Regions from separate parts of the Homo sapiens genome. Here region 2 is linked to region 1. The links come from fine-mapping of genetic effects on gene expression. A gene starts in region 1. The other region holds a variant in brackets. All regions are shown on one strand. Distances are between the middles of the regions.

What was found. PIP is the estimated chance that this variant, and not a neighbour inherited with it, causes the effect.
Region 2: its variant is fine-mapped to the expression of KAT2B in tibial nerve (GTEx, PIP above 0.99).

What each region holds. Positions count from the first base shown.
Region 1 is chr3:20,031,967-20,046,934 of GRCh38, forward strand. KAT2B (lysine acetyltransferase 2B) reads left to right here and starts at 8,480. Exons shown (of 18, transcript NM_003884.5): 1 at 8,480-8,814. The coding sequence starts at 8,512. RefSeq lists silencers at 7,742-8,381, 8,552-8,681, 8,882-8,941 and enhancers at 8,105-9,075, 9,792-9,981, 11,343-11,512, 11,593-11,752.
Region 2 is chr3:20,059,075-20,075,855 of GRCh38, forward strand. It overlaps KAT2B (lysine acetyltransferase 2B), which reads left to right. Exons shown (of 18, transcript NM_003884.5): 2 at 13,259-13,385. Among named protein-coding and RNA genes, the nearest start is that of KAT2B, 27 kb to the left of the region's middle. RefSeq lists an enhancer at 1-8. The variant A/C (reference allele first, on the strand shown) is at 8,078.

The DNA of each region.
Region 1 (14,968 bases):
TCGGCCTCCCAAAGCGTTGGGATTACAGGTGTAAGCCACCATGCCCAGCCAACACTGTCATTTTTATACACTGGGGATAGGAGTTTAAACTGGTATGATCACTTAGCAAAACTGGAAGTATCTATTAAAGCTGTAATACATTTTTGCTATGATTCAGCAACCATACCCCTAGGTATATGCCCTGGAGGAATGAGTGCATATGACTACAAGAAGGCATTTAAGAATAGTCATAATGGTGGGCCGGGCGTGGTGGCTCATGCCTATAATCCCAGCATTTTGGGAGGCCGAGGCGGGTGGATCACCTGAGGTCAGGAGTTCGAGACCAGCCTGACCAATATGATGAAACCCCATCTCTACTAAAAATTAGCCAGACGTGGTGTCAGGTGCCTATAATCCCAGCTATTGGGAGGCTGAGACAGGAGAATTGCTTGAACCCAGGTGGCGGAGGTTGCAGTGAGCCGAGATTGCACCACTGTACTCCAGCCTGGGCAACAAGAGTGAAACTCCGTCTCATAAGAAAAAAAAAAGAACAGTCATAACAACTTTATTCATAATAGTAAAAAACTAGAAATGTCTATCAACAAGAAAATGGGTAAATTGTGGTAGAGTCATACAGTGGAATACTATATGGCAATTTAAAAAAGTGACATGAGGCCAGGCATGGTGGCTCATGCCTATAAGGTGAGCACTTTGGGAGGCCGATGTAGGCAGATCACTTGAGCCCAAGAGTTCAAGACTAGCCTGGTCAACATGGTGAAACCTTGTCTCTACAAAAAATAAAAATTAGTCAGGTGTAGTAGCGCCTCCAGGTAGCCCCAGCTACTTAGGAGGTTGAGGTGGGAGGACTGGTTGAGCCCTGGATATTAAGGGTGGAGTAAGCCATGATTGCACTACTGCACTCCAATCTTGGCGATCCAACCTAAGCAACAGTGTGAGATGCTGTTTCAAAATCTAACAAACAAGCAAACAAACAAAAAAAGTGACATGGCTACATGGAACAGCAGGATGGACTTTATAAACATAATATCTTTAAAAAGGAGGCCAGGAGTGGTGGCTCACGCCTGTAATCCCAGCACTTTGGGAGGCCGAGGTGGGTGGATCACCTGAGGTGAGGAGTTCAAGACCAGCCTGGCCAACATGGTGAAACCCTGTGTCTACTAAAAATACAAAAAAAAAAAAAAAAAAAAAAAAAAAATTAGCCAGGCATGGTGGCAGGCACCTATAATCCCAGCTACTTGGGAGGCTGAGACAGGAGAATTGCTTGAACCTGGGAGGCGGAGGTAGCAGAGAGCTGAGATTGCGCCGCTGTACTCCAGCCTGGGCAACAAGAGCAAAACTCCATCTAAATAAATAAATAAATAAATAAAATAAAAAGGAGCCCAACAACAAGAGTCCATGCTGTGTTATTTTTATATGAATTTTATGAATAGGCAAGACTATATAAGCCAGAATAGCAATTGTCTTAGGATGTTGATTAGAAGGGGGCAAAAGGAAGTCTTTTTTTTTTTTTTTGAGACGGAGTCTTGCTCTGTTGCCCATGCCGGAGTGCAGTGGCGTGATATGGGCTCACTGCAACATATGCCTCCCGGTTTCAAGCGATTCTCCTGCCTCAGCCTCCCAGGTAGCTGGGATTATAGGCGCATGCCACCACGCCTAGCTAATTTTTTGTGTTTTCAGTAGAGACGGGTTTTGCCATTTTGGCCATGCTGGTCTCGAACTCCTGACCTCAAGTGATCTGCCCGCCTTGGCCCCTCAAAGTGCTGGATTACAGGTGTGGGCCACTGTGCCCAGCCAGGAAGCCTTTCTAGCACTGGGGATGTTCTATATATATTGATCTGGCTGGTGAGGAATCAAGTGTATCCATATATAAAAATTCACTGAGCTGAACAATTAAAATTAGTGTACTTAACTAAAGCATATTGTCTTTTATTTTATTTATTTGCTTATTTTAGAAATAAGGTTTCACTCTATCCTCCCACACTGGAGGATAGCTCACTGCAACCTGGAACTTTTGGGTTCAAGCCATCTTCCTGCCTAACCCCCCAAGTAGCTGGGACTACAGGTATGTGCCCCCATTCTCAGGTAGCTTTTTTATTTTTTGTAGAGACCAGGTCTTGCTATATTGCCCAGGCTCATATTATCTTAAAAAAAAAAAAAAACTTGCTGAAAAAATAGAATAAATATTCCAGAACAGAAAGACAAAAACAGCTGAAGACACATATATATTGGGCTTTGTCTCCTTTTGTTTCTTTCGTTTTTCTTTCAGTGTGAAAAAATGCATAAAAGCTTATTTTAAAAAATTGATGTCAAATGCTATTTGGAGTAGAAGATGTCATTTTTCTTTACAAGCTAATAAAAATATTAAACTCAACCTAGCCAAATATAATGCACATTTGTTGGCAGGTGTTTCAACTACTACAGATTAAGGCCTTCCCTGAGTAGAAGACTAGCTAAGTAGTGGTTTAGATCCTTCCGGAAAGAACTGCTGAAGGATGTGTTTAGCAAGAAAAAAAGCCAATGTAGAGTGAAGGAGTATATTGAGCATGGGAATCATTAAAATACATTGGAAATGTTAATGATCTATTGATTGCATGTTGTGGGCTGAATTGTGTCCCTCCAAAATTCATATATTGAAATTCTAATCCCTAGTACTTCAGAATGTGACTGTATTTTGAGATTGTCTTTAAAGAGGTAGTTAAGGTTAAATGAGGTCATTAAGGTGGGCCCTAATCCCATATGACTAGCATCCCTAGAAGAAGAGATGAGAACACAGAAACACACAGAGAGAAGATCACATGAAAACACCGGAGAAAAACCACCATCCACAAGCCAAGGAGAGAGGCCTCAGAAGAAACCAATCTTGCTGTCACCTTGATCTTGGGTTTTTAGCCTCCAGAATTCTGAAGAAATAAATTTCTGTGTTTAAGCCACCCAATCTGTGGTACTTTCTTATGGAAGCCCTAGCAAACTTATATACTGTGGTAAAATCAGAAGTCAGTTTGTGTCATAAAAATGTAGATAAAAAATTATAGACAATAACAAAAAAGATGGGAGCATTTGGTGAGTACTTCTATACTAACATCTTGCTTGATTTTTAACTATGTAGGATAAACACATGTCCTTTCCTAGAAATGAGACCCTGGCAGAGTTGAGTAGTTGTGAGAGACCGCGTCCCACAAAGCCTCAAATATCTTCATCTAGCCTTTAACGGTGAAAGTTCACTTGATCCTTCTCCATGGGTTTATTTTGCAAACATCAAAAAACATGACCAAAGATACACTTCCGTACATATTTACTTCTGGGGTGGGCAGGCAATTGGGAAATGAGATAAAGAGAGATATAAAAGAGCAGTCTTTAATTACATATTTATTATATATGTTTATGGAAAATGAAAACATTAAAAATCTGGTTGGTGAATATACAAATATATTACTTTATTTTTCAATATGTTTGAAATATTTTATAACAATATAAAACTATTGTGGTTTTGAAGGGATATAATGTTACTATACTGAACAATCGTCATTTTTCTTTGTTTTTCTTAGCCAAAGCATTTGCTGATGTATAGCACCTATTTTATACATTGGAACACACTACTCTGTGCTTTGATTTTAGGCTTAAAAGGTCAGTGGCAGTGTGCTCAGCCAATCAGGAATTAGGATTAAGGAATTGAAGCCTTTTATACTAAAGGCTTCCCTTATAAGGGGACCCTAAATTAGAAAACCTGTTTTGAGAAAGATTTTTTCCCTAATTTGTGAAACTATATATATGAATGTTTTTATATATTTAGGGAATTAGAATCCCTCAGGTTTATTTTAAACAATTATCTGGCACTAACAGGAATACAATTTATGATGTTCATATCATTCCAGAAAATCTAGGTCACACCAAAGTCGGTTCTTTGGAAATTTGATTTCCTTATATAATTTTCAAGGTGCTTGAAACAATAAATTCTCATGTGCTGCTTTGGAAAAGTAGAAAGTCATTTAGCCTGAATTCAGAAGAAAGCCGACTTTATTTCTTTTACTTACATTGTACTTTCATTGTAAATGGTAAGTAAACTGGTGAAATAAGTATGCGTTAATATTTAAAACAGAAAGCAATATAAAAAAACCCCTCTGTCTTTACAAGGGCAAGGCTTAGCCAAATATACTTAGGTCTATTCATATTAATAATAGAAGATTGTTACTAAGGATAACTAAGAATTAAAATAAATAAGGTTGGGTAGTGCAGTGGCTCATGGCTGTAATCCCAACACTTTGGGAGGCCCAGGCAGGAAGACTGCTGAGGCCAGGAGTGAGAGACCAGTCTGGGCAACATATTGAGACCTTGTTTCTAATAAAAATTGGAAAAAAAAAAAAAAGTAGCCGAGTGTGGTGGCACATGTCTGTAGTCCCAGCTACTTGGGAGGCTCAGGTAGGAGGATTACTTGAGCCCAGGAGGTCGAGGCTGCAGTGTGCCTTGATCATAACACAGCACTCCAGCTTGGGTGACAGAGCTAGACCCTGCCTCAAAAAGAAAAAAAAAAAGGTTGAATAAAATAGCACTAATGGCGCTGGGCATGGTGGCTCACGCCTGTAATCTCAACACTTTAGGAGGCCAAGGCGGGTGAATCACGAGGTCAGGGGTTCGAGACCAGCCTGGCCAACATGGTGAAATCCTATCTCTACCAAAAATATAAAAAATCAGCTGGGCGTGATGGTGGGCGCCTGTAATTCCAGCTACTCGGGAGGCTGAGGCAGGAGAATCGCTTGAACCCAGGAGATGGAGGTTGCAGTGAGCCGAGATAGCGCCACTGCACTCCAGCCCAGGCGACAAAGCGAGGCTCTGTCTCAAAAAAAAAAGAAAGCACTAATGGTATTTGGGGCATGGTTAAGATTCACACTGGAAATGATTTAATTCATAAATGCTTGAAAACTAGGGAAGGGGATTTTATGTTTCCTCATCCTAGGATTCATTTATTATTTTCAAAACTTTTTTCCTAGGAGGATTTATTTTATTTAATTTAAAATAAATGTTCAGTAATTATAGCCACTTCCCTCAGAGGAAGGTTGGCCCAAGGAGCCCCACTTAGGCATTGACATGTCTCTTTATTTTACACTCATATCCAACTGCTGTTTCTAAAAGCAGGTGTCTGGGAAGAATGTCAGTCATGGTCCATGTACTGGGCCAAACCTGCACTTTGACCACTTGATCTGTACCCTTACAGTCTGTGCCTTTACTGGGGATAATTTCAATCCATCTGTGGGATTCAGGGTTACTGGTACATTACAGAAGCTGTATAGCCTTGGTAGGAAGGAATATGGCAAGAAACTCTGCTAGATGATATAACAATAGATGGCCACAAAACTTGCCTTTTTTAGGAAGGCATCTCTGAGCAAGGAATACCAGATGAATAGGGTTAGCCATGCTGTTTGGTGGAGGGTATCCACATAGTACAGCAAATGCAAAGGCCCTGAGGTAGGAAAGCATTTCCTGAGTTTGGCTGAAGTATACTGCAGCACCAGGGAGAATGGGAAGGGGTGGACCTTATCAACTTCTTGTTATATAATCTCGTGTTCTGAAGTTGAAATTTTATTTTATTGCTATGTACCTTTTTAAATCTTTCCCTTACTTTTGAATTTCCCATGCATTTATTGAACATATACAAAATTGTGCTTATATGTCAATGTGAGTTTGTTTTTAACATAAATGGTATTATGCTGCACTGAGATTTATTCAACAGTGTTTCTTAGAGATCTATGTTATTATATTTTTATAAAGGTCATTGTGTATAACAGGTATAAAATATTCTGTTGTGTGAATATACCACAAGTAACCTCCAGTGGTCAGCCTGCCTCTACCATGCCCACTCTCCAAGCTTTTATTTTCTGAATGTAGCTTCTTTACCTCAGTAAGTGGTAAATACTTTGTAAATGAAAACATTGCCTTTTATTTTCTTGGTAGTTATTTCTTAAAAGTACTGTGTGCACAGAAAGAGCACACTGAATGCTTACAACAACCTAATTATGGAAAAGCAATAAGCCTCCTGAATCCTTTGCCCTTGAAATTTCCTTGCCTGGTGCTCATAACACACTTTGAATAGGTCTTGAAACCACGGGCCTTCAGCCTAAGGCAGTATGTCATCTGGGTACTCTGAGCAGGGAAATAATGAAAAATAATGTTCAGTTAATGGCACAAGCCATTCGCCACTCAGACAGTGATGGTTTTCAGAGTGGATTGAAAGGAGATTGGCTACTTCTGCTTCAAAACATCCTGGAAATTGTCTGCCTCCTGAATTCTGAGGGACGCTTGGGAGGAGGAGTTGATAGGTGACTTAATGTTAAATCTGGGTTCCCTCCCCCAATTGTCACTGTGAAAATTTTCAAACATACAGAAAAGTTGAAAGAATTGCGCACTGTGCCCATTACCTAGACTCTATTATATGGACCCCTATTTGCTTTATCATATCTCTGTTCATCCACCCTTTACCCATGCATGGAGGCATCCATACATCTTATTTTTGATGTATCTCAAAGTACAAAGAGCACCATTAGAGTTCAATGCTTGTGATTTTTCTTTTTTTAAAAATTTTTGAGGCAACATTTATATCCAGTGAAATGTACAGATCTCAAGTGGATCATTCCATCAGTTTGACAAATGCCTGCAAGGTGGAACCCAAGCTCTTATTAGTATCTGTTAAATCCATGTTAGAGGTTGATCAGAGAAGCACAGCCTTTAAGACTCTCACCCTGCTTTGCGGAGAATGGCAAAAATCTGCGAAACATCTCAGCAGAGCCAGGAGAGAGTAACACTGGTAACGTGAAGCACGTCAAGCTAAGAAAGGAAGCACTGAAATTAATTGTCCTGAATGGAACCTGATAAGAATCTGCCATTTCATCCCCTCAAGACTGGACTCAAGTTGGGAGAGAATATTGCCTTTTGCCCTGTCTAAGCTAATATCACTGTTTAGATCTACAAACTCCCCCACCTCCCAATGTTTATATATTAACCTGCATTACAAGTCAAAATAACACAGAGAATCTGGAAAAAGAAGAAGGGGAATGTTTCCCACGAAAAGCACACCCCTTAAAGCGTCTGGCCTGAGAGCTATACAGCATGCATAAAATCTGATAATAAGCACATTATGACCCACATTGCATATAACAAAAAGTAGGGCACTTCTGAAGGGTCCTGAGAAAAAGCCCTGGGCTTTTAAAACCTGCTTAAGAAGGCGATCAACGGTACACCACTTTCAAACGCAGCACTGACTTGTATGCTCCACAGTCATCAACAGTGAAAACAACAGTTTTCAACAAGAGTTGGAAACACTGAGTTGAGGGTTTTTTTTTTCTTTTTAAAGTTTGAGGCCAAAATCGATATTTATTCTTTTGAATTATGCTTATATCTTTTTCCTGGTTAATACGCACGCGGTGGCACAATTTTGAAAACTACGTAACGTTATAGAACCACCACCCAGAAACGAATCCTGTTAACAAACTTTTTGTATTCAAACTTTTTCCACTGCATAGTTTTTGACAATGCTTTTTAGACAATCTTTCTTTTAGCAACCAGCACTTTCAAACAAAAATTACAGAGAATAGTAAGTTTTTTTCCCCTCCTCCGGCAGATTTGACCCAGAAATTGCTATGGGAAGAAAGTGTTAATTATATTAAAAAATAGTTTGACAGAAAGTATTTAAAAAGAGAAAGGGAGAACATCACGTCTTTATTTTGGTGAATTAGCAACAAAGAAAAAGATTAGCATGGACGGGTACTTTTCAAAAATATATTTTTTTTCCTCTGGCTCCCGCTAGGGTGGAGGAAGTTGTCTCTCTGTCAGAGACAGGGTGGAAGAGAGTGAAAGGACAAATGATTGAGAGGCTGCCCCCTCCCACTGGTGCAGGCGTGCGGGGGTCGGATGGGGGGCCGCGGAGGGGGGAGGTGGCCAGCAGGTGCCTGGGCTCCAGGCCCCTACCCCCACCCTCGTCCCCACCCTCACCCACACCCAGGGATTGGCCTCGCCCCCTGGCGGGCGAGCGGTAGGTGTCGAAGCACTGGGGTGGGGGGTGCAAACCCCGCGGGCAGCGGAAAAGAGGCCGTGGGGGGCCTCCCAGCGCTGGCAGACACCGTGAGGCTGGCAGCCGCCGGCACGCACACCTAGTCCGCAGTCCCGAGGAACATGTCCGCAGCCAGGGCGCGGAGCAGAGTCCCGGGCAGGAGAACCAAGGGAGGGCGTGTGCTGTGGCGGCGGCGGCAGCGGCAGCGGAGCCGCTAGTCCCCTCCCTCCTGGGGGAGCAGCTGCCGCCGCTGCCGCCGCCGCCACCACCATCAGCGCGCGGGGCCCGGCCAGAGCGAGCCGGGCGAGCGGCGCGCTAGGGGGAGGGCGGGGGCGGGGAGGGGGGTGGGCGAAGGGGGCGGGAGGGCGTGGGGGGAGGGTCTCGCTCTCCCGACTACCAGAGCCCGAGAGGGAGACCCTGGCGGCGGCGGCGGCGCCTGACACTCGGCGCCTCCTGCCGTGCTCCGGGGCGGCATGTCCGAGGCTGGCGGGGCCGGGCCGGGCGGCTGCGGGGCAGGAGCCGGGGCAGGGGCCGGGCCCGGGGCGCTGCCCCCGCAGCCTGCGGCGCTTCCGCCCGCGCCCCCGCAGGGCTCCCCCTGCGCCGCTGCCGCCGGGGGCTCGGGCGCCTGCGGTCCGGCGACGGCAGTGGCTGCAGCGGGCACGGCCGAAGGACCGGGAGGCGGTGGCTCGGCCCGAATCGCCGTGAAGAAAGCGCAACTACGCTCCGCTCCGCGGGCCAAGAAACTGGAGAAACTCGGAGTGTACTCCGCCTGCAAGGTACGCGCTCGCCGCTCTCGGACCGCGGATGGGTGCTAGGGGCCCAGCCCGCGGGACCCCCCTCCCCCTCCCGCTTCCACCTCCGCCTCCCGCCTCCTGCCTCTCGCCTCCCGCCTGGGGCCGCTGCACCGCGGAAGTGCTCTTGTCGCCCGCGCCCAATTAGCTTCTTCTTGGATAAGAGTCCTGCTGGGTTTGAAGAAGGGGGATCACTAAGACGGAGAGCCCTTCATTCCTTCCGCTTGAAAGGAGTAGCTTCGGCATCCGAGCTCCCGGGCTACCTTGGGGTTTTGTTGCTCTGTAGGAGCTCGCTGGAGTCACTTTCCCGGGAGTGGAGCGGTGCTCTCCATGTGGCGGGTGACCCAGGGGCAAGGAAAAATCTTTTGGGGGACTGAGTGGTCCCTTCTGCAATCGATCCCTTCCTGTGTCCCACTGGGAGGAACTGGGTGCAAGGAGTGGGGGTGGAGAAGACTCCCGGACTCCTGGCGCTTTGGGAAAGCGAAGGGGAGGAAAGCGCGGGGTGGGAAGGTGGGCAGAGTCCGAGGCGAGGGTCTTGTGGTGCCTGGCGCCCTCGGCTGGGGGCGGAGGCACTGCCGCGCGCGGTGACAGCCCTGTCATTATTGTATTATTACTTGTTTAGTTAAAACGCTGTCCCAGCTGCTCGAGGTGTAAACAGGATTTGGCAAAGTGACAGCCCAGCGCGGCGGGCGCTACTGCTCAGTTTGAGGACACCCATTTCTTGCTACCCACTCTCCATGCCAGTTTAGGCACCCTGTCACCTCCAGCTGCAGATCCAGATGTGGAGGCTGTGTTCCCGAGGTGGGAGGATTGCCCGAGGCCGCGGGGCAGGCTGGCCCTGCGCTGTCAGCAGCGGCTTTGTTTTGACAGGGTGACAGCTGAGGGGGGCGGGGACTTGGCCTTGTCAGCTCCTGCGGCCTGTGGCTGAGGCAGGGAAGAGACACACTCACACACACTCACACCTCCCTGTATTCTTCCTGCCTGCTGTAAAGAGGGTCAAGTTCCCAGATTCCAGATTCCCGATTGTCACAACCAAGCTGCAGTGACCACTTCTGAATTTTGACATAACTATAATTTATTCTACTAGAACATCTAGGTTATACTCTTCTTGGTACTTGCAGGAGCTTCTCAGTCACAATGGAATGTCTATGCTTGCTCTTTTTCCACACCATATGCTCAGGTTTATGTTAAGCACCTCTGTATCCTACACTGGTTCAATAAATATTTGTTGAGTGAATGTAGGATCTAGCCCAGTGCTCCTCAAACTTTAATGTGCATGGGAATCTCCTGGGGAAGCTGGTTAAAATGCTGATTATGAATCAGGTGGTCTGAGGTGGAAGCTGAGAGTTTGCATTTCTGACAAACTCCCAAGTGATGCTATGCTAGTCCACAGACCACATTCCAATTCAGACCTGGACAATATATTATTTGTCCCCTTTGATTTTAGCAGAAAAGACAGAAACAAATAATAATGCTATGTGGTTATTTCTGAAGAAGGAATGCAAAAAAGATGAAGTGGGGAGTGTGCTTCTAAGAAAGGTGCAAGCCCAGGAGTTGATCATGAAGGGCATTAGACGAATGAGAACAGGACACCGACTGTAGTAGGCAGAAGGGCGAGCTATGTACAGAATTAAGAACAAGGTCATGGGTACAGGGCATACTGCTTGGGTGATGACTACACCAAAATCTCACAAATCACCATTAAAGAACTTATGTAATCAAACACCACCTGTTCCACAAAAACCTATGAAAAAAAAGAGCAAGGTCAATTACTTGGTGGCCTTGGCGTTTCGCAGCCAAAGTGGGCTCATGCAGGAACTGTCTCAACTCAGTGTTTCTGTTCTGGCTTTATTTTAAAATTTATTTATTGGGTTCTCATCACCAGCACCTCTTAAAGACTTCCTGCTGCCTGCTGTAGCTTTAATATCTGAAAACTTTCCTGAAGTTTTGGTTTTGTCTAAAACCATGAGCATATGTGGCCTGCATTGATATTTTTGATCTTTTCAAATTTCCATGGGTGAGATGTAGCACCACTTCCAAGTGGGATTTGAGTGTTTCCTGGTCACTTTCATGACCCAACAAGAGAAAGAGAAAATTTATTTTAACGTCTTTTTTTTTTTTTGAGACAGGGTCTCACTCTGCCACGTAGGCTGGAGTGCAGTGGCATGATCGTAGCTCACTGCAGACTCAACCTCCCTGGGCTCAGGTGATCCTCCTACATCAGCCTCTTGAGTAGCTGGGACTACAGGCATGCGCCAGTACACTATTATTATTATTATTTGTATTCTTTGTAGAGATAGGGTTTCACCTTGTTGCCCAGGCTGTTCTCAAACTCCTGAGCCCAAGCAATTTGCCCGCCTTGCTTCCCAAAGTGCTGAGATTATAGGCATGGGCCACCATGCCTGGCTGAAAGTGTTCATTTTTATGTATCCATTCATTCAGTAAATATTTAGAGGGTTACCAACTGGGTGTCAGGCATTGGGCTAGGTGCTGGGCCTATGACACACAGAATTTGTCCTTCAGGAGTTACTTATTGTGTGTGTGCACAAGTGCATGTGTGTGTATGCATGTGTTGGGGGCCTAGGGATGAGGGCAGTGAACCAAAATTACAGAGAAGTTCAGAAAAACTACTTTCTTGGAGTAGTTGCGGACCCAGAGCAGGACAGTTCATAGACTGGGGCACTGGTAGGGTGGGATTGGCTTCCTGGAGGAAGTGTCAGTGGCTGCTAAGAACTCTTGGCAGGGCAGAGTGGGGTGGGGTGAAGCTTCTTGTAGTGGAGAAACTGAAAGCAGTTGTGGAAGCTTGGAGGTGGGCCAACTGAGCCAGACCTTTGTTGCCTAGGGCCACCGGCTGGGGTGCGTGGCCAAGAGGGCACTGAGGAGTGCAGGAATCTTAACCTGGAGAGTGACATTATCTCAGATTTGCTTTTTTTAAAAAAAAAAAAAATTTAACTGGACTTGATTGGGTACGAGGGAGTGTAAGAGAGCAAAATCTGTGGTTCTCTCTCAGCTTGTTTCTGCACTTAATATGAGCAAGCCCAAAAGGACAGATTGCTCTACCTTTGCCACAGGCCCCTTGGCAAGTTAGATTAGAGAGATTAGAGAATGAGGAGGGATCTAGAAAGAGATAAGGTAGTTCACTGGGGGGCTTTTGAAAGAAAAACAGGTCCCAGGCCTGATATAAATCTGGCCTTTAAACTTCACAAACGAAACCAAAAAAGAAGGGAGCTAAGTCAGCCAGGGTGACGTGCCACACCCCAGAGAATAGAAAAAGAAAAAAAAAAAAGAAAAAAGAAAAGAAACAAACAAACTTGTTTCGCAGGATCCAGATCTTTGAACTGTGTCCTGGTAAAGGTTGCTTCAGAGTCATTTTGGTTCTGTGTTCATTAAAAATGTAGATCTAGGCCAGGCGCAGTGGCTCAGACCTGTAATCCCAGCACTTTGGGAGGCCGAGGCGGGAGGATCACTTGAGTCCAGGAATTTGAGGCCATCCTGGGCAATATAGTGAGACTTCGTCTCTACAAAAAATAAAAAATTAACCAGGCGTGGTGGCAGAGGTTGCAGTGAGCTGTGATTGCACCGCTGTACTCCAGCCTGGGTGACAGAGCAAGATTCTCCCTAAAAAAAAAAATAAATAAATAAATAAAATAAAGTAGATCTGACCATGTTATACCCACACTTCAGGCCCTTTAATTTCTCTTTATTGTGGTCCACAAGGCCCTGCATGGCCTGGCTACTGCTATCTGTGGCTCCTTATCGAGGGTTCAGGCACATGGTTTCCTTTCACCTAGTCGGGGGTGAGGTGGGGTGAGGGGCTTTGCACATGCTGTTCACTGGGACTGGAAGCTCTTCTTTCCACATTTTAAAATTAACTCCCAACCCTTCCTATAGAACTCAGATTCCTTGCCTTTCCTTTACCCCCCTGAGCAGCCTTCCCATTAGAAATTATCCAAATTCATCTGTACTCTTCCTGGTGCTTATATTATGATTTTTATGATTTGTATGATTATTTGATGTGCATTTAGAATCTTTGAATAGATTCTTAGCCATGCGGTTATTGACTAAGCGAATGAACCAGAGAAGAGAAAATGGAAGAAATGATTAGCTGTGATGTTAGCAGTTGTGGAATTTTAACTTAATCACTTCTTGACAACTAAGTAGAGATTTGTCATATAGGACAGTTCTAGGTGTCCCACAGATATTGATAGGATTGGGTTATTTATTTATTTATTTTTTTGAGACAGGGTCTCGCTCTGTCACCCTGGCAGGAGTACAGTGGCGTGATCTTGGCTCACTGCAACCTGTACCTCCCAGGCTCAAGTGATCCTTCCACCTTAGCCTCCTGAGTAGCTGAGACCACAGGCATGCACCACCATACTTGGCTAATTTTTGTATTTTTTTTGGTAGAGATGGGGTTTCGCCATGTTTGCCAGGCTGGTTTCCAACTCCTGGGCTCAAGCAATCTGCCTGCCTCCACCTCCCAAAGCGCTGGGATTACAGGTGTGAGCCACTGCACCTGGCCTATTTATTTATTTATTTATTTATTTATTTATTTATTTATTTATTTATTTTAGAGACAGGGTCTTGCTCTGTTGCCCAGGATGGGGTACACTGGCACGATCATAGCTCACTGCAGCCTTGAACTCCTTGACTCAGGTGATCCTCCCACCTCAGCCTCTTGGGTAGCTGGGACTATAGGCCTGCACCACCATGCCTGCTTGGGATTGGGTTTTTAATGTTATAAAAGAAACCCCAAGTGAATGTATGAGTAGGCCAAATCCAAATCTTCTTGAATTAAAGTATATCATCTACTAACTTCAAAAGAGAAACAAAACCCATTGACTAACCCTTCCTAAAGGAGCAGGCCATTTATATTAATACGTAAGAGGAGGCAATAGGGTATAGTGGCTAAGAACATGGGCTTCAGAGTTCAGGCTAATCTGAATTCAAATTTTGGGATATCCAGCTCTGCAACCTTGGATAAGGATTTCATTTAAGCCTTTATTTCCCTGTCTGTAAAGGAATGATGTTACCCGCCTCATGGCATAACAGTGAGGATTTAAAATGGGCTGTATTAGACATCCAGCATGGTGTCTTGCCCATGGCAAGCCCTCAGAAGGTAGGGGAGACGCTGTTAACTTGAAAGTCAAGTAAGAGCAACAGACTCAGTCCTGAATCCACCCCAGCTCTGCCACTTGTGTGATCTTAGGCACAGGTCACTTAGTTTTTCTCTGAGCCTCAATGACTGCATGTATAAAGTGGTGATCATGACTTCAACCTTAAAGTTAAAAGAAAAAAGTGTCCCCAGAATTCCTAGAACATAAAGATGCTAGGTTAATGCTGGCTAAATAAACGGAATTGCCTGGTGCTTTACTCGTATATCAGAGTCAGTGGCCACAAAGCATTTATGGAGAACCCAGTTGCTTGGGTTCTCGGCAAGGTGCCACATTTAAGGAGTTTCATGGGTACAGGACTATAAAATTAGTCTTAATTGAAAAAATAGGCCCAGGGCATGGTGGCTTGTGCCTGTAATCCCAGCAGTTTGGGTGGCCAAGGCAGACGGATCACTTGAGCTCACGAGTTCGAGACCAGCCTGGGCAACATGGTGAAACCCTGTCTCTACAAAAATTACGAAAATTAGCCGGGCATGATGGTGCGTGCCTGTAGTCCCTAGCTACTCAGGAGGTTGAGGTGGGAGGATGGCTTGAGCCTGGGAGGCAGAAGTTACAGTGAGCTGAGATCATGCCACTGCACTAGACCTTGTCTCAAAATAATAATAATAATGATTTATAATCTAGAAGTAGCACTGGTTGTAGAATATACAGAGAGCAGAGGTAGATGTGCCACCACAAAACAAAAAGCATCCTCTGTTGGCTAAGGGCTGGTGGGTGGGGCACTAGAACAAGCCTTATAGTTGGAGAGCGCCCCCAACACCTTTGTATTTGTCAGTCACTCCCCCAGAGAGCAAATTGTCTTTTTCATTTGTCAGCATTTAGAGCAGTGGCTCTCACCCAGGAGCTATTTAACCTCCCAAGGGACATTTGACAATGTCTGGAGACATTTTCAATCTTTGCAGTTGGGAGGAGGGAATGCAACTGGCAACTAGTGAGTGGAGGCCAGTAATGTTGCTATACATCCC
Region 2 (16,781 bases), 28 kb after region 1:
CCAGCTGCTTACAGTGGACTCCAGGTGTTGTTTTTTAAAAATATTATTAAAATATCTTGCTGGGCATGTGGCTCACACCTGTAATCCCAGCACTTTGGGAGGCTGAGGTGGGCAGATCACTTGAGGTCGGGAGTTCGAGACCAGCCTGGCCAACATGGTGAAACCCCGTCTCTACTAAAAATACAAAAATTAGCCAGGCGTGGTGGCATGCGTCTAGTAGTCCCAGCTACTCGGGAGGCTGAGGCAGGAGAATCGCTTGAACCTGGGAGGCGGAGGTTGCAGTGAGCTGAGATCATCATGCCACTGTACTCCAGCCTGGGCGACAGAGACTCTGTCTCAAAAAAAAAAAAAAAAAAAAAAAGGCCAGGCGTGGTGCCTCACGCTTGTAATCCCAGCACTTTGGGAGGCCGAGGCAGGTGGATCACGAGGTCAGGAGATCGAGACCACGGTGAAACCCCACCTCTACTACAAATACAAAAAATTAGCCAGGTGTGGTGGCGGGCGCCTGTAGTCCCAGCTACTTGGGAGGCTGAGGCAGGAGAATGGCGTGAACCTGGGAGGTGGAGCTTGCGGTGAGCCGAGATCGTACCACTGCATTCCAGCCTGGGCGACTGAGCGAGACTCCATCTCAAAACAAAAACAAAAACAAAAAAAACTTTACTGAGTTATGATTTAGGTACCATAATATTCTCTAGTTTTAAGTGTACAATTCAATGATTTTTAAGAAATTGACAAGTTGTACAATCATCACCACAATCTACCTTTTAGAAGATTTCCATCACCTCCAAAGGATCCTTGGGTCCATTTACAGTTAACCCTGTTCCTACCCCCCACCCCAGATGACCACTAATCTTTCTGTCTCTATAAATTTGCCTTTTCTGGATGGTCATGTAAATGGAAGTATACAGTATGTGGCCTTTTATGATGGGCTTCTTATGCCGAGTGTAATGTGTTTGAGATACATCCATGTTGTAGCATATGTCAGCACTTCTTTATCTTTCATTGCAAGTAATAATCCGTTATATGACTAGAACACATTTTGCTTATGCGTTAACTAGTTGATGGGCATTTAGATTATTTCTGCCTTTTGGCTATCATGAATAATGTTGCTGAGGCATCTGCATGCAAGTCTTAGTATGGATATATTTCTGTTTCTCTTGGGTAGATACTTAGTGGATTTGCTGGGTCATGTGGTAAATTTATGTTTAACTTTTTGAAAAAATTGTTGTTTCTTAAAAAACTGTGGGCTGGGCATGGTGGCTCACGCCTGTAGTCCCAGTACTTTGGGAGGCCAAGGCGGGCGGATCACCTGAGGTCGGGAGTCTGAGACCAACCTGACCAACAGGGAGAAACCCTGTCTCTACTAAAAATACAAAATTAGCTGGGCATGGTGGTGCATGCCTGTAATCCCAGCTACTGGGGAGGCTGAGGCAGGAGAATCTCTTAAACCCAGGAGGCGGAGGTTGCAGTGAGCTGAGATCACGCCATTGCACTCCAGCCTGGGCAACAAGAGAGAAACTCTGTCTAAAAACAAACAAACAAACACACAAACAACAAACTGTGGTAATGCTGGGCATGGTAGCTCATGGCCTGTAATCTTAGTACTTTGGGAGGCTGAGGTGGGAAGATCCCTTGAGTCCAGGAGTTTGAGACCAGCGTGAGTAACATAGTAAGACCCTGTCTCTACCAAAAAATAAAAATAAAAAATAAAATAAAATAAATTATCCAGGTGTAGAGGTACATGCCTGTGGTCCTGTCTACTCAGGAGGCTGAAGTTGGAGGATTGCTTGAACCCAGGAGGTTGAGGTTGTAATAAACCATGATCATGCCACTGCACTCCTGGGCAACAGAGTGAGACCCTGTCTCAAAACAACAACAACAACAACAACAACAAAACTGTGGTAAAATATAGATGATCTAAAGTTTACCATCTGAACTATTTTTAAGTGTCTAGTTCATTGGTATTAAGAAATTCACATTATTGTGCAATCATCACCACCATTCATCCACAGAACACTTTTCAGCTTGCAAAACTGAAACTCTGTGTTCATTAAACAGTAACTCCCTCTTCCTTCCTCCAACCCCTCGGCAACCACCATTCCTATCTCTATGAATTTGGCTACCATAGACACCTTATCTAAGTGGAATCATACAGTATTTGTCATTTTGTGACTATTTTACTTAGCATAACATTCTCAAGTTTCATTCAGGTTGTGGCATGTGTCAGAGTTGCCTTTCTTTTTAAGGTTATATAATAGCCCTTTGAATGTATATACTACGTTTTACTTATTTATTCATCTCTTAAGGGATGCTGGGGTTGCTTGGACCTTCTTGCTGTTGTGCTTAATAATGATACTAGGACATGGGTGTCCAAATATTTCTTTGACTTCCTACTTTCAATTCTTTTGGGTATATACCCAGAAGTGGAATTGCTGCGTCATATAGTAATTCCATTTCTAATATTTTGAGGAACTGTCATACTGTTTTCCATAGCAGCCATACCATTTTACGTCTTCAGCAGGAATATTCAAGGTTTCCAGTTTCTCTACATCCTCTCCAACACTGTTTTCTGTTTCTTTTGTAGTAGCCATGCTAATGGGAGTGAGGTGGTATTTCATTGTAGTTTTAATTTGTATTTTCATACGTATATATGAAAAAATAATATATATGAAAAAATATATTATACATAAAAATATATAATTTATAATACATAAAATATATTATATATTATATATTATACATAAAGTATATAATATATAATATACATAAAATATATATAATATACATAAAATATATAATATATTTGTATAAAATATGTATTATATATTATATATAAAATATGTATTATATATCATATATAAAACATAATATATATTATATATAAAACATAATATATATTATATATAAAACATATAATATATAAAACATATAATATATATTATATATAAAACATAATATATATTATATATAAAACATATAATATATATTATATATAAAACATATAATATATATTATATATAAAACATATAATATATATTATATAAAACATATATATATAAAATATATAATATATAAAAATATATAATATATAATATATATAATATATAATATATAAAATATATATATTTTATATAAAATATATTATATATAAAAATATATATAAAATATATAATATATAAAATATGATATATAATATATAATATATAAAATATAATATATAATATATAAAATATAATATATATAAAATATTTATTATGTATAAAATATAATATATAATATATTTTATATATAATTTATAATATATTATATATAACATAATAAATTATATATTATATATTATATATTATTATATATAATATATAATATATAGAAATTATATATATTTTATTTTATATATATATATATTAGAGGTAGTTTTGCTCTGTCACCCAGGCTGGAGTGCAGTGGCATGATCTCGGCTCATTGTAACGTCTGCCTCCTGGGTTCAAGCGATTCTCTTGCCTCAGCTTCCCGAGTAGCTGGGATTACAGGCATGCGCCGCCACGCCCAGCCAATTTTTGTGTTTTTAGTAGAGACGGGGTTTCGCCTTGTTTGCCAGACTGGTCTTGCATTCCTGAGCTCAGGTGATCCACCTGCCTCAGCCTCTCAAAGTATTGGGATTACAGGCGTGAGTCACCGTGCCTGGCCCATTTTCATAATTATTAATGATGTTGAGCATCTTTTCATGTGTTTATTGACCATTTGTATATTTTCTTTGGAGAAGTGTCTGCTCAAGTCCTTTGCCCATTGTAAAATTTCGTTGTTGTTGTTGTTGTTGAGTTGTAGGCATTCTTTATATATTTTGGATATTAACCTGTTATCAAATATATGGTTTGCAAATATTTTCTCCCATTCTCTGGGTTGCCTTTTCACTCTGTTGTGTATGTCTTTTGGTGCACAGAAATTTAAAGTTTTTCCTAATTCCAGTTTATCTGTTTTTCTTTTGTTGCCTGTGTTTTTGTTATTTATTTTTAGACAGTATCTTGCTCTGTTTCCCAGGCTGGAGTACAGTGGCACAGTCATGGCCCATTGCTGCCTCGAATTCCTAGGCTCAAGGGATCTGCCTGCCTCAGCCTTCTGAGTGGCTGTGACTGCAGGCGTGCACCACTATGTCCAGCTAATTTTTAAAATTTTTGTAGAGATGGAGTCTTGTTTGTTGCTCAGGCTGGTCTTGAACTCCTGACCTTCCCAGCGTGCTGGGATTATACACCTGAGCCACCACACCTGGCCGCCTGTGCTTTTGGTATTATATCCAAGACACCATTGCCTGATCTAGTATCATGAAGATTTTTTCTGTATTTTCTTTTAAGAGATTCTTTCTTTCTTTCTTTTTTTTTCTTTTGAGATGGGGTCTCGCCCTGTTGCTCAGGCTGGAGTGCAGTGGTGCGATCTCACCTCACAGCAACTTCTGAGTAGGCCTCTTTTTTTTTTTTTTTTTTTTTTTTTTTTTTGAGATGGTTGCTCTGTTGCCCAGGCTGGAATGTAGTGGCACAATCTCAGCTCACTGCAACCTCTGCCTCCCAGGTTCAAGCAATTCTCCTGCCTCAGCCTCCCAAGTAGCTGGGATTACAGACGTGAGCCACCATGCCCGGTTAATTTTTGTATTTTTAGTAGTGACAGGGTTTCACCATGTTGGCCAGGCTGGTCTTGAACTCCTGACCTCGTGATCCAACTGCTTCGGCCTCCCCAAGTGCTGGGATTACAGACGTGAGCCACCACGCCCGGCCGAGATTCACAATTTTATGTTGAAGTCTTTCATCTATTTTGAGTTCATTTGTGTGTGTGTTATTAGCTAAGGGTCCAGCTTCATTCTTGTGCACACAGATACCTAGTTTTTCCAGCACCATTTATTGAAAAGACTGTCCTTTCTCTATTGAATGGTCTTGGCACACTTGTCAAAATCATTTGACCATTATCTGTGAGGGTTTATTTCTGGGCTATCTATTCTGTTCCATTAGTATATAAGAAGCTAGCAAACTGTTTTCCAAGGTGGTTGTACCTTGTTACATCCCACAAACACTGTATGAGGATTCCAATTTTTCACATGCCTGATAATTTGTTATTGTCAGCTCCTTTTGAAAAAAGAACTTATTTTGTGTTTAATTGACACCTAATAATTATACATATTGATGGGGGCATAGTGTGGTGTTTTGAAACATGTATACATTGTGTAATGGCCAAATCAGTGTAATTAGCATGTTCATCACCTCAATCACTTGTCATTTCTTTGTGATGAGAACATTCAAAATCCTCTCTTGTAGCTATTTTGTAATATGCAATATATTATTGTTAACTATAGTCACTCTGCTGTGCGATAGAACACCAGAATTTACTCCTCCTATCTATATTTGGTTAGAGAGATCTTATTGGGTGAGAAGTTACGGTTTTGATCCTTGACATTTAAACATTATGACTTTGTCCAGCATGGAGCAGAGAGGTAGTGAATAAGAGTGAGTCCTTCCTCTCTCACAACCACAGTGCCAGTTACCTGCCTGGACACATTTTGTGCATCTGCAGGGTAGAATGAGTAACCCCAGGCAAGTCTCTTATCACCTAGAGCCTCAGCTTTCTCTTTTAATAATGGCAATAATTCATACTTTACTTACATCGAGTGAGATAAGAGTACATGTACATTTTTAATTTTGGGTGCTAAATAAATGTTGGATCAGTTATACTGAATAAATTTTCCATCAACGTGTTCTTGCTGTGGGACATCCTTGACACTAATTTAAGTTTTCCAACAAATGCGACTTTCCAATATTTTAAGCATGACAGAATTTTGCTAGACAGCTGGCTGTCTTTCTCCTGTTCCTCTGGATGCCACTCAAATATCTTCACACCCATCTCACTCATTAACACTGCGTGAACTGTGAGCTCTCCACCCCTTGTCTGTCTGTAATCTGGGTTGTGACTACTTGTTTATCCAGTTTATCTTCTTTCTCATCATCCATCCTGGTTTCTGCATACTATAACAACATCGGTTGCATACTATTGACCTCTAACCCTGGATCCTGTTGGGATGAAAACATTATCCCAGTCCTGTTGAAAGTAGTGCAGTGGCCTTTTCTTCTTTCTTGGTTCTGCAATGTCTGCAGAGATGTGCTCTTGGGGGGATGAAGTCATCTGGGTAGCTTTCCCCTCCCTGTGCCCAGGTTGCTAGCTGCTACAGTAATTGGCTTGGCAGTGCACTCCCTAAAAGGTTGTCCTTCAGCTGGTACTTCATTAAAGCTGCAAGGCCAACTCCCTTGGGAGTTCCCTTAGACAGCAGCTGTCATGCCTAATTAAGGAGAGACATGGGAAAGGTGTTTTGAAAGGAGACCTCTTATCTCGAAGAACAGTGGCCAGGCCTGAACATTGGAATGGGGAGATGAAGGCCAAAGTGGAGGGCATGGTAGCAGCAGCTCAGAAAACTTGGCAGAAAATGCTTTGCTGGCAGTCAAGGATAAGAGCATTGACTGTTTTTTAAAGGACACAGTATGTCCTTTTTAGCAAATCAAGTAACGAGTCCCATATATATTAAAAATTTTGTACACTTAGGTTGTTAGGTGTCCCATGGAGCATGCACACATGCAAGAACCAATTTTCATATCCTGCAAAAAATACTGAAACAAGTAAGGAAAACTCAAGGGATTCTCATATATATCAATAGGGTATAACTTTAAAGAGTTAGGACCACTTAGGGATGCTGAGACTATTCTATGCTTAAACTGTTAGGGTCCATAGTGAAGACCTGGGGCTTGGGGGTGGAGTCCCTTTATAGTCTAGTGCACCAATATCCAATAGTAATATGGAGGCCGCATGTATTATTTAACATTTTCTAGTAGTCCTGTGTATTAGTTTCTTAGGCCTGTCATAACAAATAACCACAAAATATGTGGCTTAAAACAACAAATACAGTTTTTTTTTTATTCACAGTTTTGGAGGCTAGAAGTCTGAGATCAAGATGTCATCTGGGCCACACTCCTTTTGAAGGCTGTAGGGAAGAATCTTTCCTTGCCTCTTCCTAGCATCTGGTGGTGCTTGGCAATCCTTGGCATTCTTTGGCTTATAGTGAGACCCTGGTCTGTCTCATAGTGAGATCCAGCCTCTGCTTCTATCTTCACTTGGCCTTCTTTACTGTTTGTCTGTGTCTGTCTCCAAATCTCCTTCTTCTTTCTCTTAGGAAAACGCCAGTCATTGGTTTTAGGGCTTAGGATAATTTCATCTGCATGTCCTTAACTGATCACATCTGCAATGAACCTATTTCCAAATATGGCCCCATTTTGAGGTTCCAGGGGAACATGAACTTTATTTATTATTATTATTTGAGACAGTCTCACTCTGTCACCTAGCTGGAGTGCAGTGGTGCCATCTCAGCTTACTGCAACTTTGGCCTCCTGGGTTCAAGCAATTCTCCTGCCTCAGCTTCCCGAGTAGCTGGGATTACAGGCATGTGTCACTATGCCTGGCTAATTTTTGTGTTTTTATTAGAGACAGGGTTTCACCATGTTGGCCAGGCTGGTCTCGAACTCCTGACCTCATGTGTGATCCTCCCACCTCGGCATCCCAAAGTGCTGGGATTACAGGCATGAGCCACCGCACCTGGCTGGGACATGAACTTTAGGGCACACACTATTTAACCCACTGCACCGCATTAAAAAAAAAAAATCAGAAAAGCCAAAAATTTAATTTTATTAATTCTAATTTTTACTTTAACTGAATATTTCAAAATATTATTATAATATGTAATCAATATAAAATAATTCTTAATGTGATATTTTAACATTTTTTAATACGAAGTCTTTGAAATTCAGGGTGTATTTTCAAACACTCATAACACATCTCAATTTTTATTGCCAATTTTTAAAGACTCCGTATTCGCTTGTGGCTGGCTGCCACATCTTGGACAGCACAGTTGGAGTGCTGCGGGGCTGACAAAACTTTTATGCTTCTCAGTGTTTCACCCCATGTTGTCTCCCTCTCTTCATTCCTCTTAGTTTTCAGGGAATTTTAATTTGTTTGGGAAGTCTCAGTCATTATGAACAAAAGAAATAAAAAT[A/C]TACTTTGTACTGGGATCCCAAGACTCAGTGGAGGAAGTAAAATCAGCCAGTTTTGAAAGAAAAGATCTTTATTCAGTTACATTTTTAAGCATCAGTGTTTATTGTATGGTAGAATTCATTAAGCACTCTATCACAAGTGGTTTCAACACGTGCGGTTAATATTCAAGATGTAACTTTTTTTTTTTATTGAGTAGGGGAAATATAAGACCTTATTATTACAGATCTCCCTGCCATGAGATTTGTGACTCACCCATTTATGAGCCCCCAGTGAACACAGCCATTATTCTCTGTCATGTTAAGACAAGAAGGGGCATAAATAAACTTTTTTTCTGGGCTGACTGAACTTAGTCTGTTGCAACAATGAAGTTAAGATCTATATCTCTAAAACTCTGTGTTGTCTTCTCCAAGAATTTAAAGCTTGTTACTTGTTAGCATGCATCTCAGGGCAAGGCAGAGTTTTATAAGCAAGCCCATAGGAAGAAAAGTTTTAGATCCTTGAATTCTTTCTTTATTTATTTTTTTATATTTTTTTAAACTTCTGAGACAGGGTCTCACTCTGTCACCCAGGCTGGAGTGCAGTGGTGCGATCTTGGCTCACTGCAACCTCTGCCTCCCAGGTTCAAGCGATTCTCCTGCCTCAGCCTCCCAAGTAGCTGGGATTACAGGTGCCCACCACCACACCTGGCTAATTTTTGTATTTTTAATAGAGATGGGGTCTTGCCATGTTGGCCAGGCTGGTCTCGAACTCCTGACCTCAGGTGATCTGCCTGCCTTAACCTCCCAAAGTTCTAGGATTACCTGTGCCTGTCCCGTCTGGCTTAATTTCATTTCTTTTTTCTTTCTTTCTTTTTTTTTTGTTTTTGAGGCAAGGTCTTACTCTGTCACCCAGGCTGGACTGCAGTGGCGCAATCTTGGCTCACTGCAACCTCTGCCTCCCGGGTTCAAGCGATTCTGCTGCCTCAGCCATCTGAGTAGCTGGGATTACAGGTGTGCACCACCATGCCGACTAATTTTTGTATTTTTAGTAGAGATGGGATTTCACCATGTTGGCCAGGTTGGTCTCGAACTCCTGACCTCAGGTGATCCGCCTGCCTCGGCCTCCCAAAGTGCTGCAATTATAGGTGTGAGCCACTGTGCTTGACCCTGTCTGGTTTAATTTCAACACGTCTTTACCCACTGCGCTGTAGCCACATTGGCCTTTACTTTCTGTTGAGCAAGCCAGGCACTCTCTTGCCTTTGCGCTAGCTGTGTTTCCCTTATACTAGATACCTAATGACCAACTCCCACCTTTCTTCAAGTCTTTGCTCTAAGGTCATCTCAAAAAGTCCTAGTTAAAATTATACCTTTTATCCCACCCTCTGCTAAGTTCCCTGTACTCATCCTTTTTTCTTTCTTTCCATAGCACCATCACATTCTCCAGTATATTCTATAATTTACTCATTTGTGTTAATCTTGTTTTCCCCATCCCCGGCTACCCCTAATGTAATCTCCAGGAGAGCAGAATCTTTGTTTCATAGTCAATAGTACCTGGCATGTAGTAGGCCTCAATAAATATTGTTGAAAGAATGAGTCAGTGTGCATAACTGCTTGGCTTGAAATGCTGTTCTCCAAACTCAAGGTGTTTTTGGTTATTACTGTTTTTTCCTTCTAGGTTTGGCCTGCCATATTTAATTGCTTTGTTGGGGCCATTTAGTCATTTTTCTTTCTCTAACTTAAGGTCCTTTGGGAAAGGGCTGTGGATCAGACCAACTATTCAGAAAAGCTGGAGGCTTAGGGAGTTCCTGGAAGTAGCTATGCGGCAACTAAGAGAGGTTGGCCCACAATAAGGGTGGTTTCCTCTGACTCTACAAAATCTTAGTGATACTTTTGTAGGGGAAGAAAGCTGTTTTCCCTTTACCATTTTAGGTGCATTGGTTGGGGCCCTGTCAGTCAGACTAACAGAATACATTAACAAGAGAAAAACAAAAACAAGTTTATTGACATATTCATTGCGTATGAACATGAGAGCACCCAGTGAAGAGTAACTCAAGGAGGTAGTTAGAACTTGGGCTTATAGGCTATCTCAGCAAAGACTAGTAAATTTTTAGAGAAGTGAGAAGACAAAGGAAAAGGACCTTGAGCTGCTAGGGACAGCAGATTGTGGGAAGGCAAGTATGTGGGGAAACCAATGGTAGATCAGGGCTGGTTTTAGCAAGGTTTGTTATGTAGATTCCCCTGGTACCCTATCTGGGCTGATAAAGGTCAAGAGTTGTCTCCAAGATCAACTTCTGTCCTTCTTGTTAGAGAGGGAAGTGGGGATACCTTTAAGAATTTATGTCCTGCTTCTGGGGATATAGGGGAGGGCAGAGAGCTTTTCTTTTTCTTTTCTTTTCTTTTCTTTTTTTTTTTTTTGAGACAGAGTCTCACTCTGTCGCTCAGGCTGGAGTGCAATGGCGCAATCTCAGCTCACGGCAACCTCTGCCGCCCGGGTTCAAGTGATTCTCCTGCCTCAGCCTCCTGAGTAGTTGGGATTACAGGTGGCTGCCACCATACCCGGCTAATTTTTGTATTTTTAGTAGAGACGGGGTTTCACCATTCAAGACTGGCCAGGATGGTCTTGAACTCCTGACCTCATGATCCACCCGCCTTGGCCTCCCAAAGTGCTGGAATAACAGGTGTGAGCCACTGCGCCCGGCCAAGCTTTTCTTGTATCTGCATTTTAATAACCCTTAGGCCAAAGTTGTATATTTCGGTTTGCCATATTCTCCTATTCACTGTCTTCATTGTAAATTCTCATGACAATTTCCTTCAAGAACATGGCCTCTGAGATCTTTGCAACCTCTGAAGAGGTGGATGGTTCATTACAGAGAATTTCAAGGCCAGGTTCAGCCTGGCAACAGAGAACTCTGGGGGTAAGAGTTGGGCCTTCCTGATGCCTAGACAAAAGACGGTCACTTGAGCTACTCACTGGGGGATGTAGCTATGGGGATGCTGATGTAGGTGCTTCTCCTGGCCCTGCCTTCTCCATCCTCATTAATACAAAATGGGAAAAGCAGTCAGGTTAGGTATTCCAGATTCACATGGCCCACTGAAAAGGACTCATTCAAAGGCAGATTTTTCTTCTACCATGACCCTTCTTACCTTGCCAATCGTTTATTCTCTTTTCTTTCTTTCTTTCTTTTTTTTTTTTTTGAGATGGAGTCTCGCTCTGTACCCAGGCTGGAGTGCAGTTGTGCAATCTCGGCTCACTGCAAGCTTCGCCTCCCAGGTTCACGCCATTCTCCTGCCTCAGCCTCCTGAGTAGCTGGGACTACAGGCGCCTGCCACCACGCCCGGCTAATTTTTTGTATTTTTAGTAGAGATGGGGTTTCACCATGTTAGCCAGGGTAATCTCGATCTCCTGACCTCGTGATCCGCCCACCTCGGCCTCCCAAAGTGCTGGGATTACAGGCGTGACCCACCGTGCCCGGCCTCTCTTTTCTTATACTGTTACACATATATACACACTTCAGAAATGATCTCTGTCCTGGAGAATTTTATGTATGAGGTCAAAGCAGCAGCCACTCTGACAATTTTCTTCAAATTAGACTTATGCTGCTGGTCACGGTGGCGCACGCCTGTAATACCTGCACTTTGGGAGGCCAAGGTGGGCGGATCACCTGAGGTCAGGAGGTCGAGACCAGCCTTGGCAACATGGTGAAACCCTGCCTCCACTAAAAATACAAAAATTAGCTGGGTGTGGTGGTGCATGCCAGTAACCCCAGCTACTCAGGAGGCTGAGGCACAAGAATCACTTGAACCTGAGAGGTGGAGGATGCAGTGAGACAAGATCTTGCCACTGCACTCCAGCCTGGGCAACACAGAGAGACTCTGTATATAAAAAAAAAAAAACCAAAAAGTTTGGATAACTGTATTACAAAAGTAAAAATAAGTCAATATTAATAATATCTTTTCTTTAACCCATATATCCAAAATAATACATTTAAACATATAATTTCAATATGTAATATAAACATTGTTAATGATGTATTTTATATTTTGCGCTAGTCTTCTAAATCTGTATATTTTGCAACTACAGTGCACTTTGATTTGAACTAGCTGGATTTCTAGTGCTCAATAGCCACATGTGGCCAGAGGCTACCGTACTGGATAGTATATGTAGATGGCTCTACCCTAGAGTGACTTCATCTGTGTTACATGTTATTCTAACAATGTATCTTCTGGTTTCCCAGCCACAGCTGACTTGAAGCAGTAAATAAATGGTGAGAGTGACAGAGTGCTAAGAATAGTAGAGAAGGGGCAGAAGAATTATTTTTATAAGTGGCTGAGGTCATTCATTGCAAGCACAAATGAAAGGTATGAACCTTTCATACGTTGAGACCTGCTGAAGCATACAGTGTGGTACCTGGTAGAATAATTGATAATTTTTCATGCTTGCCTTCCATTTCATAGGTCAGATCACTTAAAGAAGGCTACATCATGTTCACTCTTGGCTACAAACATAGGGAAGTGTGAAGAGTATGTGGACAAAGTTAAGGAAGCTTTCTATCAAGTGTTGCTAAAATAATGGTGTTCTAGTACAGGAAACCTGGGAAATGTACGTGTAAGTAGAAACCCAGGACTACATGATGAAGCCCTCTTCATTTCTAAAGCTGGGAGCTCACAGAAGTCTTGGAGGAGCCTGCAAGTGTGCCTTCAGCTGGGTGTGCCCCGTCTCATCTTCCTAAGATTGCTAACTTCTTCGGTTCTATGGGTTTCCCTTCTGGTCCATGGGGCAGAGATGCAGCTGGTGCCTTGGAACCTGCAAGGCTCAACCTTAGCCTAGACCTTAGCTGTGTTTGTGGGACATCAGGAGTCTGGCTTGTGGATTTGGAATGTCCATCTTTTGAGATGGACTTTCTTGGAACTCACCACTTCATGGACACCCACTGGGGGCAATGGTAGCAAAGTGTGTGGGTCAGCTGCGTGAGCTGTAGCATGCAGATTCCAGCCAGCAGACAACAAAAGAAAACAAAAAGCAAAGCACTCAAATCAAATACCACCTTTGGGTTTTCTGTTTTTCTCTTGTGTATATGGCAGACGACAAAGTCAGGGGTGAGGGGATAGCTGTCATATAATTAGTGTACATTGTTCTCATGTAAAACCATCAGTCCACGGCTGCCTGTTAAATAATTTTGTCTCTTTCTTTATTCCATTTTTAGGCCGAGGAGTCTTGTAAATGTAATGGCTGGAAAAACCCTAACCCCTCACCCACTCCCCCCAGAGCCGACCTGCAGCAAATAATTGTCAGTCTAACAGAATCCTGTCGGAGTTGTAGCCATGCCCTAGGTGAGTTCCTAAATCTTCAAGGAAAGTATAACGAGTTCATTGTAGCGTGAGACTCTTAACTTACTGAATTCTGTGGGTTCACCAAATTTGAATGCTGTGTACCTCTGTATGAGAGCAACAACAAGAGCCTCTCTAGTCTCACGAGTTTGCTGGGAAGGGCTTCTCGTGAGAGACAAATGCTGCACTGTGTGCAGTGACTTTGTCCCTTCTTCCTTTCAAGAGCTGAGTTGGACTGGGGGATTGCCAAATAAGATGAAACATGACAATCGAGCTAGTTAGCATGAATAATGTGTAACATGTCCTGATTCATTTTGGGGGTTGGGGCCTGAGGGTCTTTGACCTCAGGGTTGAAACCTCAACCAACTGGTTTAATGATAATAATGATCATTTTTATTATTTCTGTTGCCCTGAACTTTCTGGGGTGCTTCATTTTATCTTCATATTCCTTAGTTTTGTGTATCTGATAGCTCTTTCTTCACTGGGCTGCTCTTTATTGTGTTTATTGAATGTTTACTGGTGGTTTCCCTTTCAACTTTCTTATCTGACCCTGCAAAATAATCATTGTCAGTGATGGCTCAGTAGGCTCTGCTGCAGTCACTCAAAAGGCCTGTGCTAGTATGTTGTTCTTTGTCCTAATACTAGTTTTATGATTAAAATATTTAAAAAAATCATGTGTTGTTTGAGTAGATAAAAGTTGAGGAATTAGTTTTTCCTAGATACTAAAATTTCAGTCCACGAAGAATCTTAGACTATTCTTACTTTCCTGCCTTCAGTTATACAGTCTCCCCCAAAATGTCAACAAGGCCAGTTTGCTGTCCGTGACTGCAAGGACATAGCACTCACTGGGCAGAACGTTCTTGCTAAGGTAGTTGCTCTTTCCACCTGACCATTATAAGTGGGTGACTTCTTATGCCATCATTTCTCTAGAGCTTCCTGCTTACAAGAAATGGTGTCGCCTCCAAGGTTAGCATGGTGTTAGGTCGTCTGAAATTTTATTTTGTACTCAGAGAGTATTTCAATATTTACAGAGCATACAAGTAGATAATGTGATCTTCCCAAGAAGTCATCACATTGGAATAACCTTCTGAAAATAGAAATAGTCCTGATCTCACAAAAGCAACACACTAATAATTTCATCATTTTGTTGACTTAATTGGTATCTCAAACAATGTGAGCTCTGAGTTTTGAAGCACTCAATACAGAGCAAAAATTTCAAAAGTTAGAGAACTGTCCTTGATTATAATTTACCTTTTTAAAAAAATAAATAAATAAAACAGAACGAAACAAAACAATCACTAACTCTGAATGGAGTGAATGGAGTTTAGGATTGCCTCAGGAAATGTGACGTAATAAATGTCTGGACTCAAGAAATCCTTAAGCCCTAGGCTTGAAGTGTATTTGTTATTGATTGGGAAATCCTATTATCCTACATCAATTAACATTTAAAACAGGATCTTCTTTCTTTCTTAGCCGAGCAGATTGTCTCCATTCTAAGCACGTAAACACACATGAATGCCTGAAGGCAGAGACAGTGCTTCACAAAAAAAGCCAACTTTGTTTCCTTTTTTATTTCTTACCAAGCTTTGAAAACAAATGCCCTCATTCTGCAATACATAATCAAGAATGAAGAATGAAAAAAAAAATCACATATCCTTTGACCTGGCAAATCCATGCCAGAAATTTAATCTGTGTGTAAATTAAGATGTGCCCTCAAATTAAACTAAAAGGACGGTGACAGTGTTTTCTGGCCTTACTTACGATAGTAAAAAGCATGAAACAACCTAAATATTCCAATGTAGGAGATGATTGTGAAGAAATCAGGTAATAAAGCAGCTTGATAGGAGGTTTTATAATTTAGGACTAAATTATTGGATCTATCAGCCTGAGTTCAAATCCTAACTCTATAACCAGTAGCTGTGAGTATGAGCACATTACTTAATCTGCCTGGACCTCAGTTTTTTCAACTCTGAAATGGGTTAATACATAGTAGTATTTACCTTGCAGGATCATTGTGAGGATTAAATGAGATAAGAAAAAATCTTAGAATAGTACCTGGCATGTAAATACATGATTATTGGCTGATGTTGTTCGTAGTAGTGGTACTATAACACTATCAGGGTTCTTTTACTTCACACAGCAGATATATACTCTGTCTAGCTTAAATAAGAAAACAATGCATATAAGAAGGGTACTAGTAGCTTCTAGAAGCTGAAAACAATGGGAAAACAGGTTTTGATCTTGTTTGGGGATCTCAGCTGCAGAAGTTCACAGAGCTTCTGTTCAGTCTGCTGCCACTGAATCATTTAGGATTCAACTCCAACTGCCTCTGTCCCTGTGAGTATTGGTTCAGGATTTAAATACCCTGTGGAGGAGCTTGTGCCTGTTATGTGTTTAACTCTGAAGTTTACCCCAAGGGAACTAAGAAGTTGGTCCTTTCCCAAATACAGGATGCTGACTCAGAAACAGCATTGATGTTTCATGAGTATGATCCCATTTTATTACTTTAGAAAATATAATACCATAAGGCCGGGCGTGGTGGCTCACGCCTGTAATTCCAGCACTTTGGGAGGCCGAGGCTGGCAGATCACAAGGTCAGGAGTTCGAGACCAGCCTGGCCAACATGGTGAAACCCCGTCTCTACTAAAAATACAAAAATTAGCTGGGCATGGTGGCAAGCACCTATAATCCCAGCTACTCGGGAGGCTGAGGCAGGAGAATTGCTTGAACCTAGGAGGCGGAGGTTGTAGTGAGCCGAGATTGCACCACTGCACTCCAGCCTGAGCGATATTGCGAGACTCTGTCTCAAAAAAAAAGAAAAAAGAAAATATAATAGTATAAAACTTTTTTCTATTTTACTCAACACAGAACACTTCTGTGACCAGATGTGTGGGTTTTTTTTTTCTTCACTCACCAAGCAATTCTCCCACTCTCTGAACACTAGCTGGAGGTCCCATAATTCATTTCGGTTCTGACATGACCTACTTGGAGATAGCATCACATCCCACAGGTTAAGGGCACAGTCCCACAATAGTGCTCCCACTTCAGATGCCAATTGCAAGTCCCAGGTTATGACCTTTGCTTCTGACCTACCGGCTATAAATCAGGGTTCCCATCATACCCCTTCCTTGGTTTCAATAATTTGCTAGGATGGCTTACAGAACTCAAGGAAACACTTCAGTTTACTGGTTTAATATAAAGGATACACAGACAGCCAGATGAAGGGATGCACATTGCAAGGTTTGGGGAAGGGGAGTGAAGCTTCCTTGCCCTCTCCAGGTGCACGACCCCCCAGGCACCTCCACATGTTCAGCAACCTGGAAGCTTGAGCCTGTAATCCCAGCTACTTGGGAGACTGAGGCATGAGAATCGATTAAACCTGGGAGCAGAGGCTGCAGT